2 linked regions of the Homo sapiens genome follow. The protein of the gene in region 1 purifies or fractionates together with the protein of each later gene. This does not show direct contact. Each region holds a gene or a part of one and is shown in the gene's direction. Other genes may lie near its edges.

What was found. Proteins that work in one complex are often made in the same cells at the same time.
Region 2: the proteins of CEP89 (region 1) and TOP1MT purify together in Homo sapiens (affinity purification with mass spectrometry; one large-scale study listed by BioGRID and IntAct). This does not show direct contact.

The regions. Positions count from the first base shown.
Region 1 is NC_000019.10:32,930,459-32,933,958, reverse strand, and holds part of CEP89 (centrosomal protein of 89 kDa), read left to right. Parts: intron 1-289; coding exon 290-508; intron 509-2,387; coding exon 2,388-2,530; intron 2,531-3,500. UniProt on the Homo sapiens protein: Required for ciliogenesis. Also plays a role in mitochondrial metabolism where it may modulate complex IV activity.
Region 2 is NC_000008.11:143,317,881-143,321,380, reverse strand, and holds part of TOP1MT (DNA topoisomerase I, mitochondrial isoform 1 precursor), read left to right. Parts: coding exon 1-180; intron 181-3,294; coding exon 3,295-3,363; intron 3,364-3,500. UniProt on the Homo sapiens protein: Releases the supercoiling and torsional tension of DNA introduced during duplication of mitochondrial DNA by transiently cleaving and rejoining one strand of the DNA duplex.

The DNA.
Region 1 (3,500 bases):
TGCTGGCTCCTGCTGCCCTGCAAGATGAACTTTCCATGCCACATCACAATAGGCACGGCCTCCTGCAGCTCTGGCCTCCCTTTCTGGCCTCCCCTCAGTACCTCTCTTCCTGCCACCCGCTGTGACTTCATCAGGCCACTTACTGTTTCCTGTAGAAGCCATTCCCTTCCCAGGGACCAAAGAACATGGCACCAGGCCTGATGTGGTTTTTGGAACAAAGTCAGTTGATTTTGATGTAACATTGTCAACATCAATTAACATTGTAAAATTTTCCCCTGAACCCTTTCAGATATAACTGGTAGAGCACGTCAAAGATATACAGAAATAACCAGAGAAAAGTTTGAGGCATTAAAAGAAGAAAATATGGACCTAAACAATATGAATCAAAGCCTTACCCTTGAACTAAACACAATGAAACAAGCAATGAAAGAACTACAGTTAAAACTTAAGGGAATGGAAAAAGAGAAGAGAAAGCTCAAAGAGGCTGAGAAGGCGTCGTCACAGGAAGGTGGGGACAGACAGAGTGCCTTTATTAGAGGAATGAGCAGGACTTCACTCAATTATTTTGAGAGTTAATATTTTATGTTGTGATATTTGTGTTGGTAATTTATGTTGTAATATTTCAGGTTTTTTTGTTAATATCCTTATGTTTGTTGAGATTTGATTTCATCTGCTATATCATTATTACACTAAAGAAATTCCTCAGGTTGGAAAGAAGCTGAATTTACAAAAACAAAACAGAGATTCCAATACTTCTTTTGGAACTTGATGCTTAGCTTACATATATTTCACTTCAGTTTTTATCCCTAAGAGAAGCATAAAAAAGCTCCTCCTTTACCGTAGACTTACCAATGATTATATTTTCCTTGCTACTTTTATAGGTTAAAAAAAGAAATAGTATTTTAATTTGTATTTCTGTTATTATTGAACTTGAATATTTTTTCATATCTTTGCAAGTCATTTTCTTTTTCTTTCATAAAGCTGCCCACTTTATTTATTTATTTTTTAGAGACAGCATCCCACTCTTGTCACCTAGGTTGGACTACAGTGGGGTGGTCAGAGCTCACTATAACCTTGAACTCCTGGGCTCAAGTGATCCTTCCACCTCAGCCTCCTGAGTAGCTGGGACTAAAGGCAAACGCCATCATGCCTGGCTAAGTTTTTTTTTTTTTTAATTTTTTTTATAGCAGTGAGGCCTCATTGTGTTGCCCAGGCTGGTCTCAAACTCCTGGCCTCAAGGATTTTTCCTCCTTGGCCACTTAAAGCACTGGGATTTTAGATATGAGCCACTATCATGGCCAAGTTGCCCACTTTACAATGAGACACTTGACTTCTTTTTATTGATTTGCAGGAACTCCTTACATATGAAAGATTTTATCCCTTTGTCATAGGTGTAATATTTTCTTAGTTTGTTGATAATTGGGCTAAATCAATAAAATGTTTTTCTTTTATGACTTACACTCTTGGTATTAAGTCATTTTTAACTCTAAGGTTATATAAATATTCACCAATATTTTCTCTATACCTTTTTCTATTTATATAAAACTAATATAGCTTTAAGTAAGGTGGTGTCAGTTTTTTTCACATAGACCCTGCATAATTCTTATCTTAGGCACATTTATTTTTAGATACTATATATTATTTGTGCTGTTACCTTGTGGGATCTATTTTCTGTTTTGTTTTCTAATAGGACATTGCTATTATGTGGGAAGGTTATTAGCTCTAATACATTTTCCATGTATTCTATATGATTTTTCTCTTTCTTTTTTTTTTTTTGTGAGATGGAGTCTCCCTCTGTTGCCCAGGCTGGAGTGCAGTGGCGTGATTTCGGCTCACTGCGAGCTCCACCCCCTGGGTTCACGCCATTCTCCTGCCTCAGCCTCCCAAGTAGCTGGGAATATAGGCGCCCGCCATTACGCCCGGCTAATTTTTTGTATATTTAGTAGAGACGGGGTTTCACCGTGTTAGCCAGGATGGTCTCGATCTCCTCACCTCGTGATCCACCCGCCTCGGCCTCCCAAAGTGCTGGGATTACAGGCGTGAGCCACCGCACCCGGCCTCTGTATGATTTTTCAAAGCACATATTCTTATGTCATCTGAAACAATGACTATTCCTTTCCAACTTGAAATTTTTATTTTACTTTATTGTACATGCAAAAACTTCCACAAACTTTCAATATAACGTTAACTATTCAGTGTTAAAAAACGTTGTAACTTTTATTCATTCACACACACAGACACACATACACACACAGACACACACGCACACACAGTTCATTGCCTCTGAGCGTGAAAGAGGGGAGAAAAGCAAACGATTTGCAATTTAATAAAATCTGGATAAATTGGATGTTATTTCTTATAGTATAATATTAAATTTTTTTCCCTAGTTGCTGCACCTGAATTACTTTATCTGCGAAAACAAGCTCAAGAACTGGTGGATGAAAATGATGGATTGAAAATGACTGTCCATCGTTTGAATGTAGAACTCAGTCGATATCAGACAAAATTCAGGCATTTGTCCAAGGAAGAGGTAACGTTTCCGATTGTGAAAATCAGCTTTTCAGATTTTTAAGCCTTTACTGTTGAATTGATTTCCAATCTTGAGAGGTTCTTATTTATTATAATTTGATGTAAGAAAAGCTCTGTCCAAGGCACAATGTTTCTAAGGACCATTCTGTTTCTTGCCTCCTTCCCTTCCTTCTTCCCCGTAATAAAGGCAATAAAGACTGTAAAACATTGGGACAATACAGAAGTGTACAAAGTAAAAGAGGCCGGATGAGGTGGCTTGTGCCTATAATCCCAGCACTTTCAGAGGCTGAGGCGGGAGAATTGCTTGAGCTCTGGAGTTTGAGACCATCCTGGGGGACATGGCGAGACAGTCTCTACAAATAAAAAATTTAAAAAAATTAGCTGAGCATGGTGGCGCATGCCTGTAGCCCCAGCTACTCAGGAGGCTGAGGCAAGAGGATCTCTTGAGCATGGGAGGTCAAGGGTGTGGTGAGCTGAGATTGCGCCACTACACTCCAGCCTGGGTGACAGAGCAAGACCCTGTCTCAAAAATTAAAAAAAAAATAACAAAAGTAAAAGAATGAAAGTGTATGTCGGCTGCTCCCTTCTCAGTCACGTTCCTGAAAGTTGCAGCTGTTGTCAGTGCATTAACTTCGAAAGGAAAGCAGAGTTTTCAGTTCTAAGAACAGTTGCAGAGTCCAACTCCACACACTCTCACTGAGCAGGTCACTGCATGAGATGCCGGGAGGAGTGCCAGATGAACCGATGCTCAGGTCCTTACTCTTACAGAACTTGGGGCTGTGAAGATGTGAGTGACACTGTGGACACAGGAGAGGGAGGCACCGCTGGCTGGGCTCTTGCTGGGGTAGAAGGCGGGAAGGCACACGGTGTTCTCCCATGGCTCCTGGGAGTTCAGGCCTCATGGGCTTCTGAGTTGCTTTTTGAAGGAGGGCTTACGTTTCACTTTTTTTTTTTAATAACAGCTTTGAAAT
Region 2 (3,500 bases), on another chromosome or scaffold:
CTGAGAGCAGGAAATGAGAAGGAGGACGGTGAGGCGGCCGACACCGTGGGCTGCTGTTCCCTCCGCGTGGAGCACGTCCAGCTGCACCCGGAGGCCGATGGCTGCCAACACGTGGTGGAATTTGACTTCCTGGGGAAGGACTGCATCCGCTACTACAACAGAGTGCCGGTGGAGAAGCCGGTGAGTGCCCTCGCGCCAGCTGCCCCCGCTATGTGACACGTATTTGCTCTGGATGTCTGGGGGCGTGCCGGAGCTGCCGTGGGGTCTGTGGCCCGTTTGCCACGTCCTGCCTGCTGGGTGAGGCCTGCTGTGCCGGGGCTGATCGGGGTAAAGGTGAAGGAGAGGCTGTGCACCATGGTAGACCCAAGGGTTCACAAGGGAGCTGGTCGGGGGCTGAAAAGGGCACGTGTGTCACGCCAGCTTCGTCTCCTGCCCCCCGGCCGGAGCATCTCCCAGGGCTGCTGGAGGAAGGCACTGCAGACCCAGTGGTTTAACAGACGTTTATTGTCGCTCAGCCCTGGGGGCCAGAGTCTGAGTCAAGGTGCTGGCAGAGCCACATCCCGCCCACACTCGGGGAGGATCCTCCTGCCTTCCCAGCATCTGGTGGGGCCACGGATCCTGCGTGTCCTTGGCCTGAGGCTGCCTCATCCCAGTCTCTGCCTCCGTTGTCACATGGCCATCTTCTCCCTGCATCTCTGCCTCTGCGTGTTCTCACAAGGACGCTGTCGTATTGGAGTTAGGGCCCAGCCCACTCTTTCTATGACTTCATCTTATCAGTCTCTAAAGACCCTGTTTTTAAATAAGGTCACGTTCTGGCCAGGCATGGTGGTGCACTCCTGTAATCTCAGTGCTTCGGGAGGCTGAGGTGGGAGGATCACTTGAGCCCAGGAGTTTGAGACCACTTGGGCAACATAATGAGACCCTGTCTCTGAAATAATAATTTAAAAAAACAGCCGGGCAAGGTGGCTCACGCCTGTAATCCCAGCACTTTGGGAGGCCAAGGCGGGTGGATCACGAGGTCAGGAGATCGAGACCATCCTGGCTAACATGGTGAAACCCCGTCTCTACTAAAAATACAAAAAAAATTAGCCGGGCATCGTGGCGAGCGCCTATAGTCCCAGCTACTTGAGAGGCTGAGGCAGGAGAATGGCGTGAACCCAGGAGGCGGAGCTTGCAGTGAGCCAAGATGGCACCACTGCACTCCTGCCTGGGTGACAAAATGAGACCCTGTCTTCTTTAAATTTTTTTTCTTTTTTCAAGACGGTGTCTCGCACTGTTGCTCAGGCTGGAGTACAGTGGTGAGATCTTGGCTGACTGCGACCTCCGCCTCCTGGGTTCAAGCGATTCTCCTGCCTCAGCCTCCCGAGTAGCTGGGATTACAGGTGCCTGCCACCAAGCTCAGCTGATTTTTGTATTCTTAGTAGAGACAGGGTTTCACCATGTTGGCCAGGCTGGTGTTGAACTCTTGACCTCGTGATCTACCTGCCTCAGCCTTCCAGAGTGCTGGCATTACAGGCATGAGCCACTGTGGCTGGCTGAGACCGTTCTAAAAAAAAAAAAAGGTTACATTCTGAGGTTCTGGTGAGGATATGAATTTCGGGAACACTTTTCACCCCAGTACACCTGGGAGGGGCTGCCCTCTTTCCTCTGCTGCAGGGACTAGTGGCTGCCCACCACCCCCACAGCCCCTAGCTCCACCAGCATAGATGCCCAGAGGGATGAGTGTGGTCGGGAAGGGCTGGGTAGATCTCTGGTCTCCAGACTGGCTTGAAGGAAGACTGGAACCTGGGGAGCATCCTCACCTTTGAATGGCTGTCCTGAAGAGTCACGGTGTCCCCTGTCTGGGTGGGCGCCACGTCGCAGTGACGTTGGACAGATCCACGCACGAACTCCCTGCACCTCAAAAGCACAAATGTGACTCAGGCTGGGCGCAAGGCCCACACCTGTAGTCCAGACACCTTGGGAGGGCTAGGTGGGAGGGTTGCTGGAGCCCAGGAGTTGGAGGCGGCAGTGAGCTATGATTGTGCCACTGCACTCCAGCCCAAGTGACAGAGCCAGACCTAGTCTCTAAAAATTAAAAAAAAAAATAAAAAAATTAATGTGACCCAACCGTGGGATGGAGTGGAGCCGTTGAAAAACAGAAATGGAAGTTTGGGGACAGGTGTTGAGGGCAGCAGAGAAACAGGAGTCCCTGGCAGGGCCCGGCCTCAGGCAGTCTGGTCGGGAAGTCATTCCTAAGGAATGAATTAATCGGAGGTAGGAGACAGAAGCCAACACACGAAAGGAAGAGGCAAGGAGGTGCTCACCACAGTGCCCCTGCCGTGGTGAAGCATCGGCTGTGGTGCAGGCCTGGATGGGGAGTTGCACTCTGTCCAGACAGAGGACTAGCCAGCCATTTGCAGTGCTGTCCAGGGGAGCACTCGGTAACGGAATGCATGTGATGTAGAGAAAAAGGCGGGACATAAAGCCTCGTCAAGATCAGCGGTGTGAAACCAAACGTGTAGAGGAAGATGAGGGAAGAAGCCAGAAGTCGGGAGCTGTGGGCTGGGGCTTCCCGCCATGTCCCGGTGCCTGTGGGTTTGTAGAATGGGGTTCATCAGCCATGGTGCCAGGCTGATGAGGGGGCCAGTTGGGGGTGCGGGGCCTCCTGCCCGTGTCTGGTGAGGGAGGGCTGCCATGCTGGTGCTGGAGAGAGCAACACAGAGGCCACAGCAACCTCCGCCCTGGAGCCGATGCCCAGCGCTCAGGGAGGGTGCCTGCCACTTGTAGGAGGACCAGCAGGTGAAACTGAGGGGAGGGCAGGCATGGGTGCAGGTGCAGGCTGGCGTTTCCTCGGAGCAGGGTTGGTCTTTCCAGAAGGGAATTAATGTCCTCTCCCCAAAGGGACTGGTGGAGGGAGGTTGGACACAGGAACCCCGAAGGCCCTGAGGTCCTGTGATGTCAGATGAGTGTCTCACATTACAAGGGTGTGGGCTCACCTGGTGGAAATCCGGCATTGATGGAAGAAGGAGCCGGGGACTCTGGGCCACCTGCCGCGGTCACCCAGGGGGTTTGCAGGGCAGGAGTCACGCCCACCTCCTGAGCACGCTGCCTGTGCGTGTGGTAGCGGTGACTGCCACACTGGAGGGTGGGGGCCGTGTCACGGGAGGATGCCGACAGGTGACGGTGATGCTGCTCGGGCCACCTTCCTCAGGGAAGCCTCCCGTGGGCTCCCAGGCTCTGCGTAGACGCCCTTCAGGTCCTCACTGGATTCGGGTTTTTTCTGTCCTCTGAAATTCCTTCTTTCTCCTTCAGGTGTACAAGAACTTACAGCTCTTTATGGAGAACAAGGACCCCCGGGACGACCTCTTCGACAGGCTGACCGTAAGCCGGCTCGTGTTTCCTCAGCAGTGGGCGGCGGCAGGACCCAGTGAGAGGGCGTGGGCGCTGAGTCTGGCCCAGGGTTTTGTCCTGACCCAACGGCTGACATGTCCTTTCCTTCCCGCGGGAGGCTGGGACGG